Regions from separate parts of the Homo sapiens genome. Here region 2 is linked to region 1. The links come from fine-mapping of genetic effects on gene expression. A gene starts in region 1. The other region holds a variant in brackets. All regions are shown on one strand. Distances are between the middles of the regions.

Region 1 (16,134 bases):
CGCCTGTAATCCCAGCTACACAGGAGGCTGAGGCAGGAGAATCACTTGATACCAGGAGAACCCAAGATCATTTCACTGCACTCCAGCCTGGGCAACAGAGCAAGACTCCATCTCAAAAAAAAAAAATTTTTTTAAGGTTTGGTAGAGCCAGAAAAGATGTCGGGGGTGGGGGAACAAAACAAAAAAGAAAAAAAAATTAAATTTAAATTAAAAAAAAAAAAAGAAGAAAAAACAAGGAAAAAAGTTTGACATTCTCCGGAACAGTTCAGTTCAGTTCCTCTGCCATAGTAGCTGCATTTCAAGTGCTCAACAGCAATATGTGGTTAGTGGCTACCGCACTGGACCATGCACTGGAATTTTCCTCATTCCAGAAAGTTCTATTAGTTGCACCACAGAGACACCCTCAGGAGGAGAGAGACCCCCCATCTCTCTCTATGCTGGAGAGCCACTTGCAGACCCTGCCCGAGTGGGGTGTACCTGGCTCTTTTTCTCCTTCTGTTCTAAGATTTTCTGCAGCACTTTCTTCTCCTTCTTGGTCAGAGGCTTCTTCTCCTTCTTCGACAGGGGAGGGGCTTTGGTCTTCTTTTTCTTCTTCCCCGGTAGAACGAGCGCGTTGCTTGCATCAACTCCCTTCAACGTGTCCTTGTCTGAGAGAGCACAGTTATTAAGTCCCCATTCTCCTTGAGGTAGCTCTGGTCCCGCCTCCCACAAGCCCCCTGACTTGCATGGGGGCCTCCTGAGTCTGCACACAGGAACAGGGGGATCTGTGAGCTCAAATCTATTTTCATAACAATACTATGATGTTCTCAAGGCTTGGCGCAGGGGCTCATGCCTGTAATCCCAGCACTTTGGGAGGCTGAGGCAGGTGGCTCACTTGAGGTCAGGAGTTCGAGACCAGCCTGGCCTATGTGGCGAAACCCTGTCTCTACTAAAAATACAAAAATTAGCCAGGTGTGGTGGTGGGTGCCTGCAATCCCAGCTATTTGGGAGGCTGAGACAGGAGAATCTCTTGAAACTGGGAGGTGGAGGTTGCAGTGAGCCGAGATCTTGCCACTGCACTCCAGCCTGGGCGACAGGGTGAGACTCCATCTCAAAAAAAAGAAAACCCCCCAAAAAATACTATGATTTTCTCTTTTTGTTTTTTTGAGACGGTGTCTCACTTTGTCCCCCAGACTAGAGTGCAGTGGCGCAATCTCAGCTCACTTCAACCTCCGCCTCCCAGGTTCCAGCAATTCTCCCGCCTCAGCCTCCCAAGTAGCTGGGATTACAGGCATGTACCACCACGCCCCAGCTAATTTTTGTATTTTTAGTAGAGACGGGGTTTTACCATCTTAGCCAGGCGGTCTCGAACTCCTGACCCCCAAGTGAGCCACCCGCCTCAGCCTCCCAAAGTGTTGGGATTACAGGCGTGAGCCACTGCACCCAGCCTGATGTTCTCCTAAGAGTGTACGGTGGGGCCGGGCGCGGTGGCGCACGCCTGCAATCCCAGCACTTTGGGAAAATCACCTGAGGCCAGGAGTTGGGGACCAGCCTGGCCAACATGGCAAAATCCCGTCTCTACAAAAAATACAAAAACTAGCCAGGTGTGATGGCATGCACCTATAATCCCAGCTACACAGGAGGCTGAGGCACGAGAACTGCTTGAACCCGGGAGGTGGAGGTTGCAGTGAGCAGAGATCACGCCACTGCACTCCAGCCTAGGCGACAGAGCAAGGCTCCATCTCAAATAAATAAATAAATAAAAGAAGGTAATCTGAGTCATGTTCTTATGAGATTCCTCTGGCCCCTGAGAAAGGCAGGGATACATGGAAATGTCCTGTTCTGATGTGAGAAACAACTTTCCCCAAATCTCTGGGTCTGAGAGACCTCAGCCCCTCTGCTCAGGTGGTCCAGTTCCAAGTGTCAGCCCAGTGTCTACGGCTGTCTTTGAGGTGCCATCCTGAATTGTCACTGCCATCATAACGGTTGTCACCTGTCCTGGGACACACCCCACCTCTGTAACCTTTCTTTACTTTTCAAAGCAACATATTTTCCCAAATTACCATCTCCAAAACTCTGATAGGAGGTAAGACGGCTACTACAGGTTAAATATCCCTTTCCAGAAATGCTAGGAACCAGACCTGTTTTAGCTTTAGGAACATCTGTATTCTATTCACTGGTTGAGCATCCCTAATCTAAAAATTTGAAATCTGGAATGCTCCAATGAGCATTTCCTTAAGTGTCATGTTGACACTCAAAAACTTTTGAATTTTGGAGTATTTTGGATTAAGGCTGCTCAACGTGTGCTACTGGTCCCATTCTGCAGATGTGAAAACGAAGGCACAGAGATGTTAGGGGATCTGCCTCAACTCCCAGCCTGTCTGTGGAACTTTTTTTTTTTTTTTTTTTTTTTTGAGATGGAGTCTCGCTCTCTCACCCAGGCTAGAGTACAGTGGTGCGATCTTGGCTCACTGCAACCTCCGTATCCTGGGTTCAAGCCATTCTCCTGCCTCAGCCTCCCAAGTAGCTGGGACTACAGGTGCCCACCACCACGCCTCCTCTGCTCTAAATGCTCCCATGGCTGCCCTCTCCCGTAGAGAAAAAGCCCCAGTCCTCGCCAAGACTGCAGTCCAGGCCCGACCTGCCCTGGCCCCCTGTTTTTTCTCTCATCTCCAGGCAGCCACTCAGGTCTCCTTCAGATCTTGACTCTAACAGAGTGATGTCTTCTCCAGCAACTCTATGGGATGCTGCAACCCACCCAATGGCCTCTTCTGTTTTATCTGCTCACTATAGCCGCATAAATTTCTATATGTTTATTCTTTGCCTGTCTCCTCCTATACAGCAGGTAAACTCAGGGATTTTCTAAAAATCTCCCTTTCTGCTATGTCTCCAGTGCCTAGAATAGTGCCTGGCATGTAATAAGGGCTACTCCTAAAAAGGGGTCTGAGAGAAATGTCAGCCAGCCTGGAGCTGAGCAGACAAGACTGGGCTGAAAATACACATTTGGGGGTCGCTGGAGATTATAAAGAGATTATAATCGAAGTCATGGGAAGGGATGGAACTACTCCTGTTTTTTTTGCCAAATTCTCCATGTTACTATTTGAGGGCGAGAGAAATCCCGGGTATTCCATATACACTGTTAAAACTAGGCTGTCACTAAGCCCCTCTCCTTTGGATCATCTGGAATGGGGGGACCCATTCCCCCATTCCAGATGATCCATCCCACCCCTCTGGGATCCCCACCCGAGAGTCCTGAAGGCAGGGCACAGGCCGCCCTGGGAAATCTCCGAAATCCAGCCCCGGTCCGGGGATGTCTTACCCTCCAGTTCCAGCTGCACGGGGGGCGGCTCGGGGGGGCCCTTCGAGGGTCCGGGGCCCGCCTGCTGGCGCCCCTTGATGTTGTAGCGCCGGCGCAGCTTCCCCATGGCGACTAGGCCAGGGTGGGCGCTCCAGCGGCCGGACCAGCAGAGCAATCCGAAACCCAGCCCACGTGGGTTCCCAGACCACCAACTCCGGCCGTGAGACTTCCGGGTTGTGTTATCGCGAGAACTGTAACTGACTTTGCCGCTGAGGGGCGGGGTTGCAAGAGAAACCCAGCGAAGAGGAGAGGCGGAGCCGGGCCGGGCAGGGGGCGGGACTATTTAGAGAAGTAGGCGGGGCCTGAGGTCCCAGCGGAGGCCGGAGTTTAAGTCCTGGGCTGTTCTCGCTTGGGGTAGTCTGGGTTTAAATATGAATTATATCTACTGATACTAATTTGGCTTCTTGGGAGTGGAAGTGTTTTGCCACCTTTTAAAATATACCCCGCCCCCAGTACTCCAAACTTCTTCCCCCCAACCCTGGTTTGCGCATCTGTATTTTCTGATATTCCTACAAGAAACGTATTAGTCGTGTACTTTTAAAAAGGCACCAAATATTTCCATCACAGGGATAGATGGAAGATCTAAAAGGAGGCCTCTACGGGCGCGGTGGCTCACGCCTGTAATCCCAGCACTTTTGGAGGCCGAGGCGGGCGGATCACGAGGTCAGGATTTCAAGACCAGCCTGGCCAAGATGGTGAAACCCCCGTCTCTACCAAAAATACAAAAAAAATTTAGCTAGGCCTGGTGGCAGGCGTCTGTAATCCCAGCTACTTGGGAGGCTGAGGCAGAGAATTGATTGAACCCGGGAGGTGGACGTTGCAGTGAGCCGAGACTGCACCACTGCACTTCAGCCTGGGCAACAGAGCTAGACTCTGTCTCAAAAAAAAAAAAATAAAGTTGTCTATTACATAACTTTAAATTCCCATTACCGCATCACATTGTAACACACTGGGAAACAATGCATTATTATTATTATTGAGACAAGGTCTGGCTTTGTTGCCCAGGCTGGAGTGTAGTGGAGCAATCTCGGCTCACTGCAACCTCTGCCTCCCGGGTTTAAACGATTCTCCTGCCTCAGCCTTCCGAGTAGCTGGGACTACAGGTGCCCGCCACCACCCCCAGCTAGTTTTTGTATTTTAGTAGAGACGGAGTTTCACCATGTTGGCCAGGCTGGTCTCAAACTCCTGACCTCGTGATCTGCCTGCCTGGGCCTCCCAAAGTGCTGGGATTACAGGCATGAGCCACCGCGCCCGACTTTTTTTTTTTTTTTTTTAAGAGATGAGATCTCGCCCTGTGGGCCAGGCCAGAGTGCAGTGGTGCAATCACCACTCGCTGCAGCCTTGACCTGTCCTCCCACCTCAGCCTCCTGAGTAGTTATGACTACAGGCACACACCACCACGACGGGCTAATTTTTCTATTTTTTTGTAGAGATGGTGTCTCCCTATGTTGCTTAGACTGGTCTCAAAATTCTGGGCTCAAGGGATCCGTTTGTCTCGGCCTCCCAAAGTGCCGGAATTACAGGCATAAGCCACTGTGAAGGCCTTAATGAATGACGTTTAAAAAAATCATAATTAGCGTATCAAATCTATGGGGTTTTTTGTTTGTTTGCTTGTTTTTGTTTTTTTGAGACAGAACTCTCCCTCTGACGCCCAGGCTGGAGTGTAGTGGAGCAGTCTCGGCTCACTGCAACCTCCACCTCTCGGGTTCAAGCGATTCTCCTGTCTCAGCCTTCCAAGTAGCTGGGATTACAGGCACCCACCAAGATGCCCATCTAATTTTTGTATTTTTAGTAGAGATGGGGTCTCACCATGTTGGCCAGGATGGTCTCAAACTCCTGACATCAAGTGATCGGCCCACCTTGGCCTCTCAAAATGATGAGATTACGGGCCTGAGCCACTGCACCCAGGCTCAAATCTGTGTTTTTATGGATTTTGTTGCTCAGGATGATAGTGATCTAAAGTTTCTTCTTTAAATATGTTTATTTAAATAAATTAAAAGTTTAAGAAACGTTTAAAAAATGTTAAGTAGGTAGTAGTACACTTGCCTATATTTCCTTCTAAAATATAATATATCAGTGAATTACCTTCCAGAAGGTATAGACCATTCTAGACAGCAAGAAGAAGGCAGATACATAACAGCATGGATGGATCTCACAAATATAAAGTTGAACAAAAGCTGGGCGTGGTGGCTCACGCCTGTAATTCCAGCACTTTGGGAGGCCAAGGCAGGCGGATCACCTGAGGTCAGGAGTTTGAGACCAGCCTGGCCAACATGGCGAAACCTGTCTCCACTAAAAATACAAACATTAGCCGGGTGTGGTGGCGCGTGCCTATAGTCCCAGCTACACGGAAGGCTGAGGCAGGAGAATCGCTTGAACCCCGGAGGCGGAGGTTGCAGTGAGCCGAGATCATGCCACTGCACTCCAGCCTGGGCAACAGAGCAAGACTCCGTCTCAAAAAATAAAAAATAAATAAAAAAAAAAGTTGAACAAAAGAAGCCAACCCCCAGAGTACTGTGTGGTTCATTTACATAAACTTCAAACACAGGCAAATGAATCCCCTAAATTTTAAGAGGAACATAGTGAATGGGAGGGGACAAAGGGAGGCTTCGTGGGGGAACTGGTAATGTTTCGTTTCTTGATTTGGGTGCTGGTTACCTTGGGTATTCAGTTTGTGAAAATTCATAAAAATTTATATGATTGTGTATTTTTCTGTATGTTATACCTTAATTAAAAAGTTTATTATTATTATTATTATTATCATTTTTTATAGAGATAGGTTTCACTATGTTGGCCAGGCTGGCCTCGAACTCCTGTGTTCAAGCAATCCTCCTGCCTTGGCCTCCCAAAACAAGCTTGTGCCACTACACCTGGCGTAAAAAAAGGTTTTTGTTTTGTTTTGTTTTGTTTTTGGGACGGAGTTTCACTCTTGTTGCCCAGGCTGGAGTGCAGTGGCTTAGTCTCGGCTCACTGCAACCTCCGCCTCCCAGGTTTAGGCGGTTGTCCTGCCTCAGCCTCCCGAGTAGCTGGGATCACAAGCAGGCACCACCATAACTGGCTCATTTTGGATTTTTTTTTTTTTTTTTTTTTTTTTTTGAGACGGAGTCTCGCTCTGTCGCCCAGGCTGGAGTGCAGTGGCACGATCTCGGCTCACTGCAACTTCCGCCTCCCGGGTTCACGCCATTCTTCTGCCTCAGGCTCTGAGTAGCTGGGACTACGGCGCCCGCCGCCACGCCCGGCTATTGTATTTTTAGTAGAGACGGGGTTTCACTGTGTTAGCCAGGATGGTCTCGATCTCCTGACCTCGTGATCCGCCCGCCTCGGCCTCCCAAATTGCTGACCTTGTGATCCGCCCGCCTCGGCCTCCCAAAGTGCTGGGATTACAGGCGTGAGCCACGGCGCCTGGCCTCATTTTGTATTTTTAGTAGAGACGGAGGGATTTCTCCATGTTGGTCAAGCTGGTCTCGAACTCCCGACCTCAGGTCACCCGCCTCAGCCTCCCAAAGTGCTGGAATCACAGGCGTTAACCACCGCACCCGACCTACAAAAAAGTTTTTAAAAAGATAAACAATACAGGAAAAAATGTGCAAAGGATATGAATAGGTAATTCACAGAGAAGTAATTCAAATGGCCAATAAATCTATGAAAATCTTACTAGGAATCCAGAAAATGTAAATTCAAAAATAAGAGCATTTTGTATTCTTTGGATTGGCAAAAATTGAGTTTTATTTTCTTGGTTGTCTAAAAAAAATGTTGGTTAGACTTGATTTGTTTGATTTAGGATGCAAACAGGGTCCTTGCATTGCATGGGTTATTATGGCTCTTAAGTCTTTAAAACCAATTATCCTCCTCTTCGCTCACCTTTTATACCAATTATTTATTGAACAAACTGGGTCGTTTGTTTGGTAGAATGCCCCACATGCTGGAGTTGGTTGGTTGCTTCTGCTGCTTCTAAGTTTTCCTTATCTGCCATATTTCCTGTAAACTGTAGGTTTGATCTAGAGGCCCCATCAGGTTCATGCTCAACTTGTCTTGGCAAGAATCCATCGCAGGTGGCGCTGGTACTTCCTGGCACTAAGATCGATTGGCGGGACCGGGACTTCGCGGCTTAGCCCCTCCATTTTCAAGTTCCCCGCCAAACCCTCCCCTCTTGGTTGTACCCATTTCTGATGATCATCGCGTGAATCCATCATTCTATTGAGGGGTGCCAAATAATTTTCGGATTCTCTCATTCATCCTCATGTATTAGCTGGACTTTGTAAAAGAAAGTCCCTCCCCAACTATTTTGGGGCTCTGAAATACAGTTCATTCAGGAAGGGCAGGAGGATGCCTGATGCTTTCTTGTTATTTAAAATTTTCAGGATGAATGAGCTGATGCCCACGAGGGCGAATTTTGGGGTACCATTATAATACATTCAGGGAGATTACATATATGTCTATTTCATGTTTTTCAATCAGTTGCAGTCACTTTCCTGGTTGAAGCTGTTGCAAGTTTTACAGGCACGGGTTGCTTTTCCACGGATAAGTTAAAAAAGAGAATTTTTTTTTAAATGATGAGAAGCCGCACCGGGTCGGGGCAGGCTTCCGGGAGGCGGGCGCGGGGCCCCGGGGCCGGGTCGCGTTGGTCCCGCGCCGGGGGCGGGGCGCGGCGTGGGCTGGGCCGTGCGCCTTTGCGCGCGGGGCGGGGCAGGTGGCGCAGCAGCGGCGGCGGCGGCTGTGGGTAAAGGCGCGGCGCGCGGCCCCCGAGCGCGCCAACCTTGCCCTAGCCGGAGCCCGCTGCGGCCCAGCGCACGGCCCTCACCCCGCATCGCGACCCCGCGCCCCGCCGGCCGAGCATGGGCGCGCGCGCCTCAGGCGGGCCCCTGGCCCGGGCCGGGCTCCTGCTGCTGCTGCTGCTGCTGCTGCTGCTCGGGCTGCTGGCCCCGGGCGCGCAGGGGGCGCGGGGCCGCGGCGGCGCGGAGAAGAACAGCTACCGCCGCACGGTCAACACCTTCTCCCAGAGCGTCAGCAGCCTGTTCGGCGAGGACAACGTGCGCGCCGCTCAGAAGGTGGGCGCCGGGCCCGCGCCCGCGGTCACCTTGCCCCGGTCGCCACGCACCTGGCTACCGGGGCCGACCTGGGAGGAGCGCGGCCTCCGGGGCTGCCCGCCCGGCCAGCGCGCGGGAAGAGGGGGTCCGGCCTGCGCCTCGGGGCCTGCCGCCTGCGGCCCCCGCCGGGCCTGACCAGTGCGGGTCTGGGCGGCCGGGCCTCGGGGCGCCCTCTCCTCTGCGCCGCGCTTCTCCTTGGACCTTGCCTCCGCGGTCGGCGCAGCCAGAGTCTCTCCCGGCTGCGCTGACGCCTGCCGCGCGTCTCATTCATTCATTCACCGCGTTTGAATGGCTCCTACTGTGAGCCAGGCAGCACACTGGCGCTCTCGGTCCCCACGCGGCTGCGCCCTCCCCAGCTACCCCGGGTTTGTCCTAGCCTCGCATCCCGACCCACTTCCCCTGGGACCTTCTGCCCCACTCCTCCTCCTGCTTTGAAGATACTTGGAGTTGTTTTTACTTTACAGGAAAAGAAGGGAGCAATGCGATTTGCTCGGTGGCTTTGGGAAACCGAGCACCTACTGTGTGCGGGGCCTTTCGCGTGGAGCCTTTTGTTTAGTTTGGGGAGGTCCCGGATCCTGCAGCCTCCTGGGAAGGGTGTTGAGTCCCAGGAGGATCGCAGGGGGTTTTCCCCAATTCCTGCTCTCTGGAGCTAGGTGCGATAGGGGTGCCATTCCGGGCCGAAGTCCGCCGACTAGCTCTTGAGAAGGAGGAAGTTACTGGGGACAGTTGTGTGTGGTATTGCGGTTCCTTTGCTGTTCCCTGGGGAGGAGGGGGCTCTTGCTTGCCGCCAGCCTTCCTGGGGTTTTGGAGTCAGAGAAGTTTGGGTTCAAGTTGGAGCTCTACCAGTTGGATGACTTTGGGGAAGTGACTTCACTTCTTTGAGCTTGTTTCTTTATTTGTTAAATGGGGATAGTAATCATTCCCCTTCATTGCGAGGTTGTAATTATGACTAGTTGGTACCTTCCTGGCCCAGAATCATGGCTAAAAAGTTAAAGTTTTCTGCTCATTGAGAGGGAGTGGGGAATAGAAGGGAATATGAAGGCCGAAATCAGATTGACTGCATGTTCTTACTGGATAACATGAAAGGTTAATTTGTTAGGAAAACAGTAAGTTTTGACCTCCCTCTCCTGTGGGCAGGGGCACCTCTTGCACAGGTGGGTCTGTGTCTTCATACATGTAGGGGAGAGAACGCTTTGTAGGTGGCCAAAGAGGGGCAAGGAAGCAGGGCTGAACGCCTGAATGTGAAAAGGTTGCCCTGGAGTCTGGCGCGGGAAAGGATCAGGGGTGTGAGTGCAGGGAGTCTCACTTACTTCCTCTTGATGCCGTTTCGGAGCTATTTGAAGGCAGAAATCATTTGTTTTAGAGCAAAAATAAGCCTGTCTTTTTCACGCAGGGTGACCACAGGATCCCCATGTCTCAACTGACGGTGGTTCCATGTGACAATCTAAGGCCAACAAACATGAAATACGAGTGGTTATTTAAGACTTTTACTTAAATAAGACAATCTGTATTCTGGCAGAGCATCTCCGAATCTGGGGGTCAGAGCTCTTCCTGGGCTAAACCGGGGTTTGTGCCTTTAATAGAGATACTAATGATTACTAAGTGCTTTTGTAGATAGAATAATCTTATGTAATCCTTAGAATGACCCTGTGCAGTAGGTACTGTTACTGTTCCCATTTGACAGATGAGGAAACTGAGACACAGAGCAGTGAAGTGGCTGGTTTCAGGTCAGATGAGTGGCAGAGCCAGGATGTGAACCTAGGCAGAGTGGACATGGAGCCCACATTAGTATCTCTCGCCTGTTTTCCTGCTTCATGACCCCTTCCCTGTTCCCCGAGTCAGTACAGCATCCAGAGGCTGACCTGACTTCTTTCCTTTTTGTTTTTTTGAGACGGAGGTCTGGCTCTGTTGCTCAGGCTGGAGTGCAGTGGAGTGATCTCGTCTCACTACAACCTCCACCTCCCAGGTTCAAGCGATCTTCCCCACTCACCCTCCCAAGTAGTTGGGATTACAGGTGTCCACCAGCATGCCTGGCTAAGTTTTGTATTTTTAGTAGAAAAGAGGTTTCACCATGTTGACCAGTCTGGTCTCAAACTCCTGACCTCAAGTGATCCTCCCGCCTCGGCCTTCCAAAGTGCTGGGATTACAGGTGTGAGCCATTGCACCTGGCCTGACTTATTTTATTTCCTGCTGAGTGTAGCCCACACTGGCCAGGCTTGGGGATATTGTTTTGTTAATTTTATGGGTTTTTTTTTAAATTTAATTAATTAATTTATTTTTTGAGACAGACTCTTACTCTGTCACCCAGGCTGGAGTGCGTTGGCACGATCTTGGCTCACGGCAACGTCTGCCTCCTGGGCAAGCAATTCTCCTGCCTCAGCCTCCTGAGTAGCCGGGATTACAAGTGAGTAGCCGGGATTACAAGTGAGCACCACCACATCCGGCTAATTTTTTATGTTTTTGGTAGAGATGAGGTTTCATCATGTTGGCCAGGCTGGTCTCAAACTCCTGACCTCAAGTGATCTGCCGACCTCAGCCTTCCAAAAGTGCTGGGATTACAGGCGTAAGCCACCGTGCCCAGCCTGTTTTGTGAATTTTAAATAAAGGAAAACTGGGTCTGCCAGCAACTGTAGTTTTCAGCATGCCTGGGTTTACGAATTAGAGCCAAACCTGCTTTGTGAAGTTTAATGGTATTTAAAAAAACACCCCATAGTCTTTTTTTTTTTTTTTTTCCGAGATGGAGTATTGCTTTGTCGCCCAGGCTGGAATGCAGTGGTTCAGTCTTGGCTCATGGCAACCTCTGCCGCCCAGGTTCAAACAATTCTCCTGCCTCAGCCCCCTGAGTAGCTGGGATTACAGGCGTGTGTGCCACCATGCCTGGCTAATTTTTGTATTTTTAGTAGAGATGGGGTTTCACCATGTTGGCCAGGCTGGTTTCGAACTCCTGACCTCGTAATCCGCCCTCCTCAGCCTCCCAAAGTGCTATGATTAGAGGCTTGAGCCACCGTGCCCGGCCTCCCATATTCTAATCTAGGACTTGTCTGAAATACACCTATGACCATCCTGTTTGGAGCATGGGAACAGACATGAGTTTGAATCCTAGCTGTTTCTCACTCGCTCTGTGACCCTGAGCCAGTTGCTTTACTTCTCTTTTTTTTTTGCTTTACTTCTCTTTTTTTTTTTTTTTTTTTGAGATGCAGTCTCGCTTCTTCTCCCAGGCTGGAGTGCAATGGCGAGCTCTCGGCTTACTGCAACCTCCGCCTCCCGGATTCACGAAATTCTCCTGCTTCAGCCTCCCTAGTAGCTGGGGTTACAGGCAGATGCCACCACGACCAGCTAATTTTTGTATTTTTAGTAGAGACAGGGTTTCACTGTGTTGGCCAGGCTGGTCTCGATCTCATGACTTCAGGTGATCTGCCTGCCTCGGCCTCCCAAAGTGCCGGATTTACAGACGTGAACCACCGTGCACCACCCAGTTGCTTTACTTATCTGTGTCCCATTTGTTCAGAGGAGATAAATTGGGGAATTAAAGGAGATTGGTTGGGCTGCACAATGCCAGGGACTGAATAAGCATTTAGTAAATGGTAGAATATTTCTATATGAAGGGAATTTGTCTGGTAGGAGGTAATAGACTTGTTAATTCCTTTAAAAATTATTAAGTGATGCCCTGGCATGGTGGCTCACACCTGTAATCCCAGCACTTAGGGAGGCCAAGGTGGGCAGCTCATCTGAAGTCAGGAGCTCGAGACCAGCCTGGTCAACATGGCGAAACCCTGTCTCTACTAAAAATACAAAAATTAGGCCAGGTGTGGTGGCTCACGCCTGTAATCCTAGCACTTTGGGAGGCCAAGGTGGATGGATCACCTGAGGTCAGGAGTTCAAGACCAGCCTGACCAACATGGTGAAACCCTGTCTCTACCAAATACAAAAAATTAGCCAGGCGTGGTGATGCATGCCTGTAATCCCAGCTACTTGGGAGCCTGAGGCAGGAGAATCGCTTGAACCCGGGAGGCGGCCGTTGCAGTGAGCCAAGATTGCACCGTTGCGCGCGCCAGCCTGGGCAACGAGTGAAACTCCGTCTCAAAAAAAAAAAAAAAAAATTAGCTGGGCGTGGTGGTGCACGACTGTAATCCCAGCTACTTGGGAGGCTGAGGCAGGAGAATAGATTGAGCCCGGGAGGCTGACGTTGCGGTGAGGTTGAGTCGCCCCACTGCACTCAAGCCGGGGGAACAGAGACTCCGTCTCAAAAAAAATTATTAAGCAACTTATACACATGTGTTCATAGCAACACTTTTTACAATAGCTAAAAAGTGGAAATGTCCCAAATGTCTTATCAGCTGATGAAGGGATAAAATGTGATGTGTCTGTATAATGAAATATGATTCAGCCATAAAAAGGAATGAAGTATTGCTATATGCTACAACTTGGACGAACCTTGAATAAATGAGAGAAGCCAGTCACGAAAGGGCACACATTATATGATTCCATTTACAGCATATGAAATATCTGGAATAGGAAGATCCGTAGAGACAGAAAGCAGATGGGTGGTTGCCAGGGGCTGGGGGAGGGAGCAATGGGGGAATTACTGCTTAATTGATCTAGGGTTTCCTTTTGGGGTGATGACAGATTGTGGAACTAGATAATAATGGTTGCATGATATTGTGAACGTGCTCATGCCACTGAATTGTACACTTTAAAATGGTTAAAATGGCCAACTTTATGTGTATATGACTACAGTTTTTTAAAAAAATTGGCCTGGTGCAGTGGCTCACATCTGTAATCCCACCACTTTGGGAGGCCTAGGTGGGAGGATTGCTTGAGCCCAGGAGTTTGAGACCAGCCTGGGCAACATAGTGAGACCCCATCTCTACGAAAAACCAAAACCTTTGGCTAGGCATGGTGGCGCACACCTGTGGTCCCAGCTACTTGGGAGGTTGCATAGGGAGGATCGCTTGATCCTGGGAGGTTGAGACTACAGTGAGCTGTGATCACACCACTGTACTCCAGCCTCAGGGACAGCACAAAACTCTTTGTCTCCAAAAAAAACAAACAAATGAAAAATTTCAAGCACCTACTGTATGTGGAGAAAATGATTCCTCTCAGGCAGAATATAGCTGGACTGATGTGGTGGAAACATCCTGAATGCCAGGTCGAGAAACTAGTACTTTTTTCCCTTGCTCCTTGGTCGTAGTTGCATGGAATACAATTTCATGTAGTTCTGAAGGTTAAGAAACTAACTCCACTTCCCACTACCGACCCGTCTACCACCCCCTTCCCCGAAGCAGCCAGATATTCTGAACATGTATAAATATATGGATCTATAGATCTGCTCCCTATTGTTGGTTTTTGTTTATTTTGCACTATGCGCACTGTTTTGTATTTTTATTTTATTTTTCCCTGAAACAGAGTCTCCCTCTGTCGCCCAGGCTGGAGTGCAGTAGCTCAATCTTGGCTCACTGCAGTCTCTACCTCCCGGGCTCAAATGATCCTCCTGCATCAGCCTCTCAAGTAGCTGGGATTACAGGTCTGCACCGCCATGCCCTGCTAAGTTTTTTATTTTTTATTTTTATTTATTTATTTATTTATTTTTCTTGAGACGGAGTCTCCCTCTGTCGCCCAGGCTGGAGTGCAGTGGCGCAATTTCGGCTCACTGCAAGCTCCACCTCCTGGGTTCATGCCATTCTTCTGCTTCAGCCTCCCAAGTGGCTGGGACTACAGGCGCCTGCCACCATGCCCAGCTAATTTTTTTGTGTGTTTTTAGTAGAGACGGGGTTTCACTGTGTTCGCCAGGATGGTCTCGATTTCCTGACCTCGTGATCCGCCCGCCTCGGCCTCCCAAAGTGCTGGGATTACAGGTGTGAGACACCCGACCCAGCCTCATTAAACTTTTTGGCTTTATTATGTATGAGACAGATGGTCTTTTCATTTATTCAGAATCCATCGATATGTTCTGGGAACTGCCTTTTGGTTTTTCTTTTTTTTTTTTTTTTTTGCCGTTCTATTGAGCTGTTGGGTTCTTTTGTTTTTGCTTTTTTTTTTTTTTTGTAAAGAGGTTTGCATTTTTTGCTGTTTGCAAGAAAGTATTTTGAGCAAAATAACTTTGACACTTTCCAGTCCTTTTTCCCCTACCAACATTTTAACAGCTTTTTTGAGGTGTAATTGCACTACACCTCAATAGACTGTGCGTATTTAAAGTGTACAGGTTGACACCTTTTGACATACACACTTGTGAAAAATTACCACAGTTAAGATAAAGTTTCATATGATTTTTTTTTTTTTTTTTTTTTTTGAGAGGGAGTCTCGCTCTGCCACCCAGGCTGGAGTGCAGTGGCGCAATCTCGGCTCACTGCAAGCTCTGCCTCCCGGGTTCACACCTTTCCCCTGCCTCAGCCTCCCGAGTAGCTGGGACTACAGACGCCCACCACCACGCCCGGCTAATTTTTTGTATTTTTAGTAGAGACGGGGTTTCACCATGTTAGCCAGGATGGTCTCGATCTCCTGACCTCATGATTGCCTGCCTCGGCCTCCCAAAGTGCTGGGATTACAGGCGTGAGCCACCACGCCCAGCCTGTTTCCTATAATTTTTTATGTTGATAATTTTTCAAAGTACTAAAATGCTGAAAGAACAGAACAAGGAATAGCTGCAAACATCTCCCCTAAAGTCACCAGTTCTTACATTTCCCCTCAAACTTTTTTCTCTGCAAACACATCCGATAGACACATACACACATGCACACACATTTATTTTTATTTTTTGGCAGGATCATTTGAAAGTTAGTTGCAGACGTCTTAATACTTTTTCCTACAGAACCACAATACCATTGTCTCAGCCAAGAAACTTAAATATAGTACAGTATTTTGTAACAGATAGTCCATATTCAAATTGTCTTTATAGCTCATAAAAAATCCAACACCCAGTCAAGGACTGCTCATGCATTTAGTGTTCATGTCTCTAGTCTGTCAGAGTTTCCTCACTTTTGGTGGAGGAAGGGACTTAATTATGAATTTTTTTTTATTTTTATTTTTTTTTGAGACGGAGTCTTGCTCTGTCACCCAGGCTGGAGTGCAGTGGCGCGATCTCGGCCCACTGCAAGCTCCACCTCCTGTGTTCACGCCATTCTCCTGCCTCAGCCTCCCAAATAGCTGGGACCAAGGGTGCCCGCCATCACGCCCGGCTAATTTTTTTTGTATTTTTAGTAGAGATGGGGTTTCACCGTGTTAGCCAGGATAGTCTGGATCTCCTGACCTCGTGATCTGCCCGGCTCGGCCTCCCAAAGTGCTGGGATTACAGGCATGAGCCACCGCACCCGGCCCCAATTATGCATTTTTTTCTTTTAGACAAGCTCTCACTCTGTAGCCCAGAATGGAGTGCAGTGGCGCAGTCTCGGCTCGGTGCAACCTCTGCCTCCTGGGTTCAAGCGATCCTCCCACCTTAACCTCCTGAGTAGCTGGGCTTACAAGCATGTGCCACCATGCCTATTTATTTATTTATTGTATTTTTCGTAGAGACAGGATTTCTCCTCGAAATCCCTGTGTTGCCCAGGCTGGTCTCTTGACTCCTGGGCTCATGCGATCCTCCCGCCTTGGCCTCCCAAAGTGCTGGGATTATAGGCGTGAGCCACTTCGCCTGGCCCAGTAAGGGACTTTTACAGCATTGACATTTCTGAAGATCACAGACTAAATGTCTTTTTTTTTTTTGAGCTATAATTC
Region 2 (16,134 bases), 170 kb after region 1:
CTGGAATGATGAATGGGATTGAAGGATTACAGGAATTGAATGATCCTATGTAACCTCATAAGTGGGGCAACAGTATCAAGGAAACTCGTACATGGGGAAAGCTTTGTGAGTTTCTTGGCCTTTTCCTCATGGTCACAAGATGGCTGCTGCAGCCCCGGCACCACATCCTCACATACTTAAAGCAATGAGGCGGCCAGTGCAGTGAGAATTCTCTTTGAAGCCCATTCTTATTTTACCAGAGGAAAATTTATCCCCAGAAAGATCCTCAGCAGCCTTCTCCTCCATTTCATTGGCTAGAACTGTGTCTCTTGGCCACCACTAGCTCTAGGGGAAACTGGGAAGCAGGTATCTGTATTCCTTTCCTTTCCTTTTTGTGTTTTGACATAATTTCAAATTAAGAAAAGTTTCAATAATAACATAAACAGTTCTAGATATTCTTCACTCAAACTGCCAAAGTGTTGGCATCATGTGACGTTTGTTTAATCTTTTTCTCTCCCTACATACACACATGTGCATACATACACACGTATGTGTTTTTTTTTCTGAATGGTTTGAGTCAACTGCAGACACAATGTCCCTTTGTCCCTAAATACTCCATTGTGAATTCCTAAAAATGAGGATATTCTCTTACATAGCCATAGCACAATCATCAGGAAATTAACATGGAAACTTCTATTATCTAATCTACTAACCTTTTTCAGATCCTGCCCATTGTCTTAATAATGTCCTTTGGCCGGGCACGGTGGCTCACGCCTGTAATCCCAGCACTTTGGGAGGCCGAGGCGGGCGGATCACGAGGTCAGGAGATCGAGACCATCCTGGCTAACATGGTGAAACCCTGTCTTTACTAAAAATACAAAAAATTAGCAGGCGTGGTGGCGGGCGCCTGTAGTCCCAGCTACTCGGGAGGCTGAGGCAGGAGAATGGCGTGAACCCAGGAGGTGGAGCTTGCAGTGAGGCGAGACGGCGGCCCTGCACTGCAGCCTGGGCAACAGAGAGAGACTCCGTCTCAAAAAAAGAAAACAAAAAAAAGGTCCTTTATAGCAGAATAAAGGCCCAGATCACACAGTGCACTCTATTGAAACATCTCCTTATTCTCCGTGAATCAGAAGAACTTCCTGGGACTTTCTTTGCCTTCCATGACTTTGATGTTTTCGAGAGGACAGGCCAGTGACTTTGCAGCATGCTCTTCCCATTGGGTGGTCTGATGGCTCCTGATGTTTGGATTCAGTTATGAACTTTTGGCAGGACTGTGTGGAGGTGGTGCTGAGGCCTTCTTGGTAGGTCATATCAGAGGCCACACATCAGAGTCCCAATAATGGGACTAATGCTCATTAGTCCCATTATTGGGGATGTTAACTTTGGTTGCTTGGGTAAGGTGGGGCTTCCAGGCCTCGCCACTGTGAAGTTACTATTTAGGTATTGAATTTTTTACCTCGATTGTGGGAATGGCTGTTGGGTTGCCAGCTGCAGAGTCTGCTCTACTCTTGCTGATCTGAGTGTGGGACCTGTGGTTCCTCTATTATTGTTCATCTTGAGTGGCAGGGAAGAAGGTCTTCAGGAAGCAGCAGGTTCAATATTCTCTTTTTAGCTACACTTTCTAAGAACCTCCGGGTGTCAGTCTCCCAGACAAGGCCCCACAGAATATAGACAGTAATGGATAGCACTGTCTACCCTCAGTGAACTTCCTGCCCAACAGGAGGGAAGGAACAAGTATTTCTTGTTCACCTACTGCCTGCCAAGCGTCGCGTTAGCCACTCACATCCACCATCTCCTTCAAGTTAGTGTATCGGCTCTAGGAGTCCAGTGCTGTTACCTGGGTAATGATTTGCAGGGCTTTCTTCCTTTCAAACCAGAGGAACCATTCATAGCTTTCTCCAGTTCCTGGGTCTGCCTCACTTCACCTCACTTGAGTACAGCTTTTTTAAAAAAAGAATCTGAAAATTTTTTTTATATCAAGTGTTTCAAGGACCTAATTATGAACTTCATTATAAGTGTTCATTAGTTATACTTTGTTCAATTACTTCAACAAGTTGCCAAATGGAACACAAAGCTGGCAATTATCATTATGTAATTGTAATGAGACACTCAAACGGGGTTATAGAACGTTGTCTTTGCTGGCGTATTTTTCCTTCAGAGGAAGACAAACCAAAGGCAGCGGCTGGGCCTAGTTCTGCTCACTGACTCCTTCCAAGCTGTGCGGGGTGTAAAGAAGCCTCCTTTGATGTACAAAGGTCAAGTCTGGAAAAACGAAAACGTTTAAGTATGGTACTCAAAATGTTTTAGATGATGAGTATTATATCTCATAATATTATAAATATAAACATAAATATAAATATAAATATAAATTTACCGGACCTCGCTGTGATAGCTGCCGTCAGATTCATGTCAGGGGCTGAAGGCTTTTCTTCCCAGTTCTGCTTCCTCCACCTTTTATCTTTCACAGGAATCACCCCCAATATCCCTTGTCCTCCTGGCCTCCTCTCAGGGCCTGCTTTTCAGCAACCCAAGAACACTCCAGGGGCATTTTTCAAGAAGCTGGCCTTCTCAGAACCAAGGGTTCCAGCAAAACTCCCAGGCCTGACTCTCATTGGTGGAAATTAGGGTACCCAGCTTGTCCCAAACCCTCCCTGTGAATCTGATTGGCTAGGCTTGGGTCATGTGACCACTCATGGTCGGGAGCATCCCTTTTCAACAACATCCCTTTGTAGTTCACCAAAGGAGAGCTGCCTCCTCCTCTCAGCAGGGAAGGGAACGGCTGCTGTGCAGGCAGAAACTGTGGCTCCGCCTTGGCCCCCTTGGCAGGCTGTGAATGCAGAAGGCCTGGCTCTTAGCCAGCTTGTCACATCACCTTTTGGGACTCAGTGTCCGTGTCTAGAAAATGGGGGCACATGGCAAATGGATTCCTGCCCTGGTTCTTCATGGGGCCTTTGTGAGCAGCCTGGGAATAGCCTGCTGAGGCATGGCTCTGGGAGGGGACTCTGTCACAGCGCTCTTCCTGCTCTGGGTCTGACCAGGCTGGAGGAAGGACTTGCTAACTGTCCCAGCCATGGCCGTGTGTGTGTGTGTGTTGGGGGGTGGGTAGGGATGGGGATGGGGGGAGGTGAGAGGGAAAGGGGTTCACCTCCTTGCACTAGAACCTTCTGCCTTCCTCCAAAGGCCCCCGATTCAAGGCCAGCTTCCAATGAGGGAGGCGGAAACATGTGCTTCACAGAGGCTCCTCTGGAAACCATGGTGACAGCCCCAAATGTGATTTAGTGACACCCTTCTGTTGTCTTAGGTCACCCGCCAGAAATGCCAAGCTGAGGAAGGAGCAGGGGAAGCTGTTGAAGCAAATTGTGCATAATTAGGACTGTTGTCTCCTGCTATGGTCTGAAGATTCATATGTGGAAACCTAATCCCTACCTTGGGGATAGTAAGAGGTGGGGCCTTTGGGAGCTGACGAGGTCATGAGGGCCCCACTGTCATGATTGGGATTAGTGCCCTCATAAAGGAGGCCCAAGGGAGCTTGTTCACCCCTTCCAACAAGCGAAGATGATGCAAGAAGGGGCCACATGTGATGCAGAGGGTGGGCCCTCATGGAATCTGCTGGCACATTGACCTTGGACTGCCCAGCCTCCAGAACTGTGAGCGATAAATTTCTATTGCTTATAAACGACCCACTAAGGCATTTTGTTGTGGCGTCCTGAATAGACTAACACATCTCCCAAGGGAGAGTTCTTCCTTTAAACTTTTGTTTTTTTGGTTTTTTAAAAACAATATTTTAAAATTCAGTTTCTGTATAGTATTCCATTGTATGAATCTTGTGTAATTTATGCCCCTCCCTTATTAATGGACATTTGCGTTGTTCCTCATTCTTGTTCACCTTTGACACCTTAATAGGAGGGCCCCGCCTTCCTTTGCAAGGCTGGGCATGGTGGCTGGGAGAGAGGGAAGCACAGCCGTGGCTTTATCTGTCCCAGGAACTTTGTCCCAGGGTGCCCTGACACATCCCATCTCTCCTTGTCACGGGGTGTCCTCGACACTGTCTGTCTCTCTTACAGTCCTTGCTACTCAGTTTCTCTCCTTACAACTCTCTCTTGCTCACTCTCAATCTCTTTCGTTGTCTTTTTGTCTCTCTCTCCCCCTTTCCTCTGTTTCTCTTTCTCACTCTTCTCTGTCTCTCTCTGTCTATCTCTCTCTCCTCTTTGATTTCCCTTTTCTTTTTCTTTTCTTTTTTTTTTTTTTTTTTGAGACAGAGTCTTGCTCTGTCGCCCAGGTTGGAGTGCAGTGGCATGATCTCGGCTCACTGCAAGCTCCGCCTCCTGGGTTCACGCCATTCTCCTCCTGATTTCCCTTTTCTATAAGTCTCTCTCTGTTTTTCTATTGCTGTCTCTATTTCTCACTATCTCTTTGTCTTTTTCTCCCTTCCCCTCTTTCTATGTCTCTCCCTTTCTTTCCCTGTTTCTCTTTGTTTTTCTATTTCTCTCTCTCTGTCTCTCTATTTCTGTCTGTCTCTATTTCTCTCTGTGTCTGCTCTGTCTTTCTCTGTCTCTCCCTCCCTCCCTCTCTGTTGATCTCTGCTCACAGCTCTCCTAACAGCATCCATCTGGGCTCCATGCTGTTCGTGTGAGCCTCTTCCAGATGGTAGGATGGATTTGAGTTGATAGCGTGGTGTGCTAATGACACAGAGCTAATTCTTAATAATGGTGAAATGTGATAAAAAAAAGAAAACCCTCATCTGGGTCAGCTCAATACCTGGCCATAATGGCACTATCTGCAGCAGTCCTGGCCACTGTCACCTGAACAGATGTGATTGTACTAGGGCTGGGTAGACCTGCAGCCTTGTTCCCCTCCTGGTGTGGCTTCAGAGTTTGGAAAGTCAGGGTTATTCGAATCCAGGGCTGGAGAGCTGCAAAGACCAGAATCCCTCCCACAGAAGCTCGAGTCACAAGGGAGCTTATTGTAAGTGCCACAGCCACAGATCTGGGTTCACAGACACAGGTGTGCATCAAATGGGACCCATCAGTTGGGATACCTGGGTGTGAGCAACAAAGGCGGACTCCAGCTGACTCAAGTGGAAAAGGAATTGATTGAAACAACACCTGGAGAGCTCGCAGAGTTGTTGAGAAACTGCAAAAATAGACTCCAAAGAAGACGTGCAGACAAAGGGAAGCATGCCACGGAATTCGCCTGATGAGGCCGTCGCTACCACTGCTGCCGGGCAATGGGCGACAGAGCCAGAGAACATCAGAGCTGATCATCACCGCCGCCCTGCTGTCCCTGGATATTCGACATTGTTGCTGACACCGGAATAGCTTCTCCCTGTCTCTGCTTCTTCAGATCAATTGCTCCAGATTCCAAGTCTGGTTGGCCGAGCTCTGTCACAAGCTAATACCCTCATTGGAGGGGTGGCAAGGCATTAAGTGCGTGGATGCTGGAGCCAGACTGGGTTTGAATCCAGGCTCTGCCACATATCTGTGTGAGCCTGGACGCCATGCATGCCTCGGCTTGCTCATCTACAAAACGGGGATAGTGTAGTCATGCCTACCTCTGTGGGGGGAGGGGGCTATGTGAACTAAATAACAGAATATATGTGAAGCGTGTAGAAGAGGTGATGAGTAAGCATTTTAAATTTTAGCTATTACCATTATTATTATTATTATTATTATTATTTTGAGATGGAGTCTCGCTCTGTCGCCAGGCTGGAGTGCAGTGGCATGCTCTCGGCTCACTGCAACCTCCGCCTCCTGGGTTCAAGCGATTCTCCTGCCTCAGCCTCTGGAGTAGCTGGGACTATAGGCGGTGCCACCACGCCCAGCTAATTTTTGTATTTTTAGTAGAGACAGGGTTTCGCCATGTTGGCTAGGATGGTCTCGATCTCTTGACCTCGTGATCCGCCCGCCTTGGGCTCCCAAAGTGCTGGGATTACAGGCGTGAGCTACCGTGCCCGGCCTACCATTATTATTTTAAAATTATTTGGCATTTATTGTGCGAGGCAGCTGCTGTGTCTCATGAAGACTCAGACAGTGGGGGATTCTCCAAACGTACGGAGGGGGACACACAAGACAGGTGTCTACCGCAGCAATTCCCGTTCCTTTTTCTACCACTCAGATTTATTTCTATTTTGAGCCCTGATTCCTCCGTGATTTCAAAAAATCCCAGTCAATCTGGAGTCCTATACCTGTTCCCTAGTGTTGTATTTAAAAGATTAAATTGGAACGTCTTGAAGCAGAGCGTTCACTCTCCAGTTTACTGCAGTCTAGTCCACTCCCTATTGCCCTGCACCGGCCCCATTTCACTCACATACGGCAGTTAGCCTGATTCCCATGGACATTTCATTTTATGATTCCAGAACCTAAGAGCTAGGGTCTTTGAAAAACAAAAAGAAGAAGGCTGGGTGCGGTGGCTCACGCCTGTAATCCCAGCACTTTGCAGGGCCGAGGCGGGCAGATCATGAGGTCAGGAGATCGAGACCATCCTGGCTAACATGGTCAAACCCCGTCTCTACTAAAAATATAAAAAAAGCCGCGCATGGTGGCGGGTGCCTGTAGTCCCAGCTACTCGGGAGGCTGAGGCAGGAGAATGGCGTGAACCTGGGAGGCGGAGGTTGCAGTGAGCTGAGATCGTGCCACTTCACTCCAGCCTGGGCAACAGAGTGAGACTCCATCTCAAAAAAAAAAAAAAGAAAAGAAAAAAGAAAAAAGGAAGCTGAGCGTGGTGGCTCACACCTGTAATCCCAGCACTTTGGGGTGCCGAGGCGGGTGGATCATTTGAGGTCAGGAGTTCGAGACCAGCCTGGCCAACATGGTGAAAACCTGTCTCTACTAAAATACAAAAATTAACTGGGCGTGGTGGTACATGCCTGTAATCCCAGCTACCCAGGAGGCTGAGGCAGGAGAATTGCTTGAACCAGGGAGGTGGAGGTTGCAGTGAGCTGAGATCGCACCACTGCACTCCAGCCTGGGCAACACAGCAAAACTCTATTTCAAAAAAAAAAAAAAAAGAAAAAGAAAGAGAAACAGAAGGATGAAACTTAAAGGCTTTTGTATCTGCTTTTGTGAAAGTCACATCCCTGCCCTGAGCCAGTAATCACAGATCTATTATCTGCTAGACAGGGGGAAAGAATACAAAGCCCACATGATACCACCCAGCCTCATGAGGTTATCAGGGTCTCACACGGGGCCCCAGGGCAGGACACACAGCTTGGCCTCCTGGGAACTGGACAGTCAACAGTACCTGCTGTCTCTTTGCTGCTTTCTCTGGGGCTGCTGGTTTCTTGCCTCTCCTGTCGTCTGTGCCTCTGACTCTTTTCCTTCTCCTTGAGGTTAATTCTATGGGCCTGAACCCATTGCTCCACTCCCTTTGTTGTGAAATGAGTCCCCAAGCAATACTCTGGCGGGCTTCTCATCTGTTTCAGTCGCAGGGATCTTGGGACAGTTAGTCTTTGCCAAACCTCCTACAGGCCAGGGCTTGCTGACCACAGGCATGTCGTGCGGTCCTTTATGGCGGGTATGCTCGCACTGCGTCTGGAGGTTGGGCACTGCCTCTTGGCTTCTGCTCTTGGGAGCTCATATCAATGGTGGGCACACCCCCGATCCATCATACCTAGCCTATAAAGGAGAAAGCCACAGACCTTCTAAGGATGCAGGTGTTCCCCCCATGAATGTATTTCTCAGCTCCTTCATAGAGAAAGCATTTTCTGGGGTCTCCTGGGGGATGTAGTTGGTGGGTGGGTGTGCAGGTTGCCATGGTAAATCCTTTCAACACTCCAATCTCCCTAAGCCTTTGGACTCCCTCCTCCATAGCATGCCAGGGTAGCTCTGGCATCTCTGCTCACTAAACTTAGGCCACCATGGAGTCCTAGTTCCAGCCACCAACCAAGTAAGCTTTGAGAGCCACCTCCAGCTAAGGAAACTAACCCATGATATCCAAAATCTTAGTGCACCTCGGTCAGTGAGTTCAGTCTGCTCCTGTTCTTCTGCCTGCCTTGGTCTGACACCCTCACATACTCCTTAGGTTTCTGCCAATATATATTGGCAAAATCGTGCAGTTCTCTTGGTGTAAAAGCTATCTCATTTGAGGCCATAGTGGGTACTAAAAATCTAAGATTCTACTTATGAGTCTGGTGCCAACAGGTAGTAGTTGTGGTGGGTCTGAAGGAGAATGGGCATCTCCTCACGTGAGATTGTCATACAGTTTTCAAGAAAAGGACAGCTAGTCTCCTTAGACACAACAGAGCAAGCTCCTTCCTTTGGCAACAGAGGCTCAGAGTGACTTGTGGGTTCAAGATTCTCAGTTTCATCTGAGTCCCACCAGATGTCCCCATTCTAAGCTTCAGCATCCCTTTTAATGTCCTACCTTTTTTTTTTTTTTTTGAGATGGAGTCTTGCTCTATGGCCTAGATTAGAGTGCAATGGCATGATCTCGGCTCATTGCAACCTCTGCCTCCCAGGTTCAAGCGATTCTCCTGCCTCAGCCTCCCAAGTAGCTGGGATTACAGGCACCCACCACCACACCTGGCTAAATTTTGTATTTTTAGTAGAGATGGGGTTTCGCCATGTTGGCCAGGCTGGTCTCAAACTCCTGACCTCAGGTGATCCACCTGCCTTGGTCTCCCAAAGTGCTGGGTTTACAGGCCTGAGCCACTGCGCCTGGCCTTAATGTCCTACCTTTCACATGAGAAGTGTGGTGAGGCTGTGAATCCACCTAGTGTAATTCCATAACCCACACAATTCAATTGTGTTTTTTATTTTCAGTAGCACTAGCCCTGGCTAATGTAAATAAGCCAGGCTACAATAAATAAGAATTTTCACTGAGGGCATCGGGGAAGCTCTTTGGCCCTAGGACTGTGCTTTGATATGAGTTAAGGGACCTGAGATTCTATTTTATTTTCCTGTAGATGCTCCAGTGCACACAGAAGCATCCATCCCACACTGCAGCCCTTGAGGGCATCGTCACGGGCATCATGTCAAGTGCCTCAGCCACCTACCTTCCCAAGGCATGTGCTTCAGTCAGCACTTTGTCAGAATCAACCACAGGTGATGGTGTGGCTGATTCGCTGTGATGGCACTGCATGCTATGGGTCACTGGTGTCCCATTTCACATGGTCAAAATCCCAGCATGGCACTCAACTCCAAAGGCATGACGAGTCTCCAACTCCCACTCCTGGAGGTCTGT[A/G]TGTATCTAGAACCACTTTCTTAACTAGTTCTGTATCAGCCAGGGTCCAATCAGGAGACCCTGACTGATTCTACATTGGTAATTTGAACTGGGACAGTCCAATATATAGAATTATTGCTGGGCATGGTGGCTCACACATGTAATCCCAGCACTTTGGGAGGCCAAGGCGGGAGGATCACTTGAAGCCAGGAGTTTGAGACCAGCTTGGGTCTCTACAAAAAATAAAAAAACAGTTGGGCATGGTGATGCGTGCCTGTAGTCTCAGATACTTGGGAATCTGAGGTGGGAGAATCGCTTGAGCCTAGGAGACTGAGGATGCAGTTAGTTATGATAGCACCACTGCACTCCAGCCTGGGTGACAGAGCAAGACCCTGTCTCAAAAAAAAAAAAAAAAAAAAGACGACAGGGCTAGGTGTGGTGGCTCACACCTGTAATCCCAGCACTTTGGGAGGCCGAGGCAGGTGAATCACCTGAGGTCAGGAGTTTGAGACCAGCCTGGCCAGCATGGCAAAACCTCGTCTCTACTAAAAATACAAAAATTAGCTGGGCGTAGTGGCACCTGTCTGTAGTCCCAGCTACTGGGGAGGCTGAGGCAGGAGAATTGCTTGAACCTGGGAGGCGGAGATTGCAGCGAGCCGAGATAGCACCATTGCACTCCAGCCTGTGTGACAAAGAGAGACTGTCACACACACATACACACACACACACACACACACACAAAAGACAAGACAACAAAAAAAGAATTATTAACTAGTAAGATGTGCTTAACTTACTAATGGAGTCAAAGAGGACTCTAAGGGGTCTAGAAATATTAGGTATAAAAAAGTTACTACTGCCAGGTGTGGTGGCTCACACCTGCAATCCCAACACTTTGGGAGGCCGAGGCGGGTGGATCACAAGGTCAGGAGTTCGAGACCAGCCTGGCCAACATGGTGAAACCCCGTCTCTACTAAAAATATGAAAACTAGCTGAGTATGGTGGCACATGCCTGTAGTCCCAGCTACTCGGGGGGTTGAGGCAGGAGAATCGCTTGAACCTGGGAGGCAGAGGTTTCGGTGAGCCGAGATTGTACCACTGCGCTCTAGCCTGGGCAACAGAGGGAGACTCTGTCTCAAAAAAAAAAAAAAGTTATTACTCCCTCTAGACTGAGGGGAAATGGAAAGTGAAGAATATAGAACTATTCTAGTCCCTGAGACCAAGAACCAGCCCTCTCCGAAGAGAATGTAGCTACTACAAGAACATGCAGTTTGCTGGATGAGGACACTGTCAGACGACGAAGCCTGCAGCTAGTCCATATACACCATCTGCTATTGCCAGAGCATGTGAGTGGCCACAGCTGTTCTCTAAGAAATGCCCACCAGGTGGGGAGAGCATGGTTCAAGGGCAGAGTCAAAGGTGGTTGGTTGAAGCTGCTTGCTGGGTGGGGCGAGGATGGCCTGAGGGGATGGCTGGAGCTCCTGCAGAAGTGGCCACTGGGTGGGGACAGTGTAGCTGAGGGTCCCTCAAGGCTACTGTGGAAATGGCCACCAAGTGAGGAGAGCATGGCCTGAGAGGGTCACAGAAGCTGGCCTGAGAGCTGCTGGTAGAAGAGCTGCTTGCAGTAGGAGAGGAGGACAGGAACCCAGAGTGGATTGGCTCTCCTGCTGTATAGCTGCACAGTGTAACCCATGCCTTCTACGGACAAAGCCGAACATTCTACCAGCTGGCAAAGGAGAAATGTTTCCAGGGGTCAGCTCCAGGATCACCAAACATGGCAAAGAAGGATGGGTTTGGAGCCGAGTGACAATAAATTGACAAGTGGAACAGGAAGAAGGACCCAAGAGGCTGGGAGGAGAGGTTTGGGGAGAGTTTGGAGAAATTAGAGGAGGTATGGAGTGTGAAGGACATGGATCAGGGAGGGGAGGAGAATTTTAAGAAATATTTCTGTGGACCATGTGTTGCCTTTATAGCATTCAAGAAATGCAAATAAGGGGCCGGGCGCGGTGGCTCAGGCCTGTAATCCCAGCACTTTGGGAGGCCGAGGCGGGCGGATCACGAGGTCAGGAGATCGAGACCATCCTGGCTAACACAGTGAAACCCCGTCTCTACTAAAAATACAAAAAATTAGCCGGGCATGGTGGCAGGCGCCTTTGGTCCCAGCTACTCGGGAGGCTAAGGCAGGAGAATGGCGTGAACCCGGGAGGCGGAGGTTGCAGTGAGTCAAGATCGCACCACTGCACTCTAGCCTGGGCGACAGAGCAAGACCCCATCTCAAAAAAAAAAAAAAATGCAAATAAGGACCGTAAGTTACGTTGGAGTTCCCTTTTGGCTGAGGGACAGTGTTCATTGACCACAACACTACTTCGAGACTGGAATACTTGGGTCCTGGGTTTCTAAGTGGGTTATGACAGTTTTCTCTTAGCCTAAAGCAGAAATTTACAACGAAAGTTTTTCTTTTTAGGTTTATTAGAGCTGCCCCAGGGATCTTGTTTTATATTATGGGTTCTTGTCTCTCTGTAAGTTGCATTGGAAATTTGGAAGTCCAGGTTTTAGTATTTATTTATTTATTGAGACGAAATCTTGCTCTGCCACCCAGGCTGGGGTGCAGTGGCATGATATAGCTCACAGCAGCCTTAACCTCTTGGGCTCAAGTGATCCTTCTGCCTCAGCCTCATAGGTAGCTGGGACCACAAGCATGCACCATCATGCCCAGCTAATTTTTATATATTTTTTGTAAAGATGGGGTCTCACTATATTGTCCAGACTGGTCTTGAATTCCTGGGCTCAAGTTTTCCTCCCACCTTGGCCTCCCAAAGTGCCGGGATAACAGGCGTGAATGCCTGTGCCTGGCCCAGGTTTTAGTTCTGAGTTTCAAGTTTCATTGCATGGTGTGATGCTGGGGCAGGTCACTTAATCTCTCTGAATCTCAGATTTTTTGCCTAACGTGGGGGATATAAAGTCTGCCCATGCAAACTCTCAGGGGATATTGCCATGATGAGGTTGGATAATGGGTATGCAATTGCTTTGGGCAAAAGACAGTTTTCATTCACTTAAGCGAAGCTGTTTGTACCCATACAGTCAGCATATTAGCAAGAAATGTTTTTGCTTGCAAACACCAGGAAACCCCACCACTGTGGAGTAGTTAGGATTTATTTTTCTCATATACCAAGAATTCTAGAGGTGGTTATTTATGGGTAATGATAAAGCTGCTTAGTGACATAAGGACCAAAAATCTCTGTGATTCTCTTGCCCTTCTCCTCATGGTCACAAAATGATTGCTGTGACTCCAGCCATCAAGGCTACATTTAAGCAGGAAAAAGGGATAGGTCCTGGTCAGGCACCGCTGTTCTTTTTTTAGGTAGCCTTGCTGGCTGTCTGCCAGGGCTGCTTTTAGCTCCTAGAGGCCCCCTACGTGTCTTCTCATTGGGCTCCTCCATCTTCAGAGCCAGCAGCAGAGATCCCCAGATGATCTCCAGACTGTTTTATTTCATCTCACGGGACAGAAGTAGAACTGCAAGAGAGTCTGCGGCAGGGGGTATTTAGCTTTCCCACCCCTTCTAGAGCGAGGAGGCAAGGGAGAAAGAAAGAAGTTGGGAACGGGTGTTGGATTAGACAGCTGACAGTGTCGGGAATAGCTGGCAAGTTCTAGATGGCAGCAGCTGAGACTGTTGGGATGGCGGGGAAGCAGCCGCTGGAGGATTTTGACTCCCACCCTTGTAACTGCTGCTCCTGTGTATCTGAGCCCTTTCATGGGGCCTGGCTGCATCTGAATAGCGAACATTTCACTTCGGAGGTGGAATTATATTAAAAATCAGATGCTTGTCATTATGCAAATGGATGTCTCACTATTGCTTAGGATTTTCATTTTTCTATGAATTATTCCTTTTTTCAGTGCTTTTTTTATTCCCCATGGAAGAAATAAAAACAACCACTGGCTGATCAAAGGAATTTTCCAGTCATTCAGTCAACAGATATTTCCTGAGTGTCTGTGCTGGGCCAGGAACTGTTCTAGTCTCAGGGAAATAGTGATGAAAAGACAGTTTCTGCAGCAGTAGAGCTTGTATTCCAGGGGAGGAAATAAGCCATCAAGTGAATTAATAAATCAAATAACTTAGGAGAATGACACATGCTATAAAGACAGTAAAACATGGTAGATCACTAGCTTCATGGGTGGGAGGTCTTCTTTAAATGGGGTGGTCAGACAAGGTCTCAGAGGAGGCAGTATTTCAGGAGAAGCCTTAAAGGTGAGAGGAAGCTAGCCATGCAGCGATCTGGGGGAAGGGTGTTCTGGGCAGAGGGAACAGCGAGTGCAAAGGCCCTGATGTGGGAACAGCATAGTATGTTTGGGGAAGAGAAGGATATCCAGGAGGCTCCAGCACAAAGAGAGAGGACAGAACAACAGGAGATGAGGTTGGAGATGGGTGGGGCAAATGACACAGGGCTTTGGAGAGGCGATTGGGTTAAAGATTCTGTCTGCTGGGGCTGGTTTGTTGGCTTGGGCCATTGAAACTTAACCCATTGGCCAGGCATGGTGGCTCATACCTGTAATCCCAGCACTTTGGGAGGCTGAGGTGGGCAGATCACTTGAACCCAGGAGTTCCAGACCAGCCCGGGCAAGATGGCAAAACCCTGTCTCTGCAAAAAATAAAAAAAATTAGGGGGGAGTGGTGACATACACCTATAGTCCCAGCTACTTGGGAGTTTGAGGTGGAAGGATCACGTGAGCCTGGAGTTCAAGGCTGCAGGGAGCTATGATCACGCCACTGCACTCCAGCCTGGGTGACAGAGCAAGACCCTAAAAGGAAAAAGAAACAGCCTGTTAGGCCATTGTCCTGGCATTACCTCCCTCTCACATTATCTTGTGAATTATTGTGTCCATTGTGTATTTCTTGCCCATTGTCCATTTTCCTAATTTGAATGTAAGCTCCATGTAGAAGGAGTCTTGTCTGTCTTGCTCATGGCTATGTCTCCAGCACCTAACACGGCCTGGCATATAGTAGGTGCTCAAAGATATTTAATGAATATGTATTTGTTTTCTGTTGCTATGTAACAAGTTACTCCAAACTTAGCAGCTGAAAACAAAACCCACTTATGAGTTCCCAGTTCTGTAGATAGGGAGTCCAGGCATGGCATTGGCAGGGTGTTCTGCTCAGGGTCTCACGAGGCTGTAATTAAGGGGTTGGCTGGGCTGTGTCCTCATCTGGAGCTTGGGACCCTCTGCTAAGCTCGTGTAGTTGTGTCATGTGGGGGTTGAGTTTCTGTGGTGGTCATACTGGGGTCCCCATTTCCTTGCTGGCTGTCTGCCAGGGCTGCTTTTAGCTCCTACAGGCCCCCACATGTCTCCTCCTTGGCCTCCCCCATCTTCAAAGCCAGCAGCAGAGAATCTCCCTCAATTTGAATCTCTCACACCTCAAATTGCTGACTTCAGAAAGAGTCCAGTCTCTTTTAAGGGGTCACTCAGGCTAATTTCCCTTTCTCAGGGTCAACTGCACCCTATGACAACCTAATTACAGGTGTAAAATTCATCATATTCACAGCCCCCTGGGGATTAGACAGGGCAGGAATCTTAGGGGCTGCCCTAGAACTCTGCCTACGGAAGAAAGTAGGAATGAATCAGTGCTCATTCTTCTTCCCCATGAGAGCCATTTCCATACCCCAGCCAGCCCAACCACACCTGCTTGTTGGTGGCTACAACTTTTGTCTTACGGTTGCTGGGAGCGCTCTTCTTCTGGCCATGGGTCTTCAGTTGTGCCTCTGTAATGGGTGCATGGTCCCACCTTAGGGCTTTTGCACTTTCTGCTCCCACTGCCCGAGAGCCTCTCCCTGTAGACCCCTGAGTGGCCCCTTCTCTCACTCTCTGCATTTGCTCAAATGTCATCTTTGCAGACTCCCTTCCCTGCTTAAAATCATCCCCTTCCACTCTAAAAATACTCTTTGCCTGTTTGACTTTGCAGTTGTTTTCACCCACCCTGCTCCGTAGTTTACTTATTTATTTGGTTATGGTCTGTCTCCCTGCACTAGGCTGGCGGCTTCACAAGCACAGGGAATTTTGTGTGTGAGATCCGCTGTCACATCCCCAGTGCCTGTGATAGTGCCTGGCTCACAGTCAGGGCGTAATAAGTTTCTGTCCAGGGAATGAATGAATGAGGTTTAAGGAGAACAGTTTTAACTTTCTTTATCTGATTTTTCTTTTTTCTTTTGGAAAAACCTGAGCAGGCACAAGTCTCCCTTCCCCAGGCAGCCTCGTTATATAATCAGGGCCCTGTTCTGCAAGGAGCTGTCAGCGCTGCTTCAAGCAGTTATATTTAGTGTTTACAGCCTCTCCTTTTAGCTGCATGAGATCTCCCGAAGAGCTCTGGAAATTAGGCCTTGCTTCAATAGGGAGAGGGGGCTCCTGGCCCAGTCCAAGGGGGCCCCAGGGGCTGGTGGGCACTCGGTGGTGGCAGTAGCCAAGCAGCCCTGACCTCAGGGTCAGCCCGTGGCCAGTGTCAGGTTCAGAGCATCCACATCTAGGGATGGAAGGTGAGTTTGTCCTGTAAATCACAAAGATAGGAGAAAACAAGGATGGGAGTAGAAAGACTGCTTGGCGTTCAAATCTTGGTTCTGACACTTGTTAGCTGTGTGATCTTAGTCCAGTTACTTGACCTGTCTGGGCCTCACCTTCCTCATTTGCAGAATGGGGATAGATCCAGCATATCTTGATTTGGTGAAATCATTCACGGGCAGTGTCTTGCACAGGATAGGGGCTGCACCAATCAGTTATTTTTAGTTGTGTTCTGAGAGGCCCCTTGCTTGGTTCTGAAGAAGGAACAGGTACATCTGAGATGCCCCTGGTGGTGACTGGATGGCAGACCCACGTCCCTGGGGGTGACTGATGGCAGACCCACACCCCTGGGGGTGACCAGATGGTAGACTCATGCCCTTGGGGGTGACTGATGGCAGACCCACGCCCCAGGTGGGTGACTGGGTGGCAGACCCACGCCCCAGGGTGTGACT

The links. PIP is the estimated chance that this variant, and not a neighbour inherited with it, causes the effect.
Region 2: its variant is fine-mapped to the expression of BRI3BP in whole blood (INTERVAL, PIP above 0.99).

What each region holds. Positions count from the first base shown.
Region 1 is chr12:124,985,619-125,001,752 of GRCh38, forward strand. It overlaps BRI3BP (BRI3 binding protein), which reads left to right and starts at 8,027. Exons shown (of 3, transcript NM_080626.6): 1 at 8,027-8,385. The coding sequence starts at 8,173. It overlaps DHX37 (DEAH-box helicase 37), which reads right to left and starts at 3,513. Exons shown (of 27, transcript NM_032656.4): 1 at 3,299-3,513; 2 at 478-647. The coding sequence starts at 3,404. RefSeq lists enhancers at 1,433-1,976, 6,597-7,097, 8,817-8,906, 10,087-10,226 and silencers at 7,857-8,176, 8,197-8,246, 8,347-8,396, 8,407-8,656, 8,667-8,726 and 1 more.
Region 2 is chr12:125,157,233-125,173,366 of GRCh38, forward strand. It overlaps LOC105370053 (a long non-coding RNA gene), which reads left to right. Exons shown (of 3, transcript XR_945492.3): 3 at 3,281-3,787. Among named protein-coding and RNA genes, the nearest start is that of TMEM132B, 21 kb to the right of the region's middle. RefSeq lists an enhancer at 2,362-2,862. The variant A/G (reference allele first, on the strand shown) is at 9,160.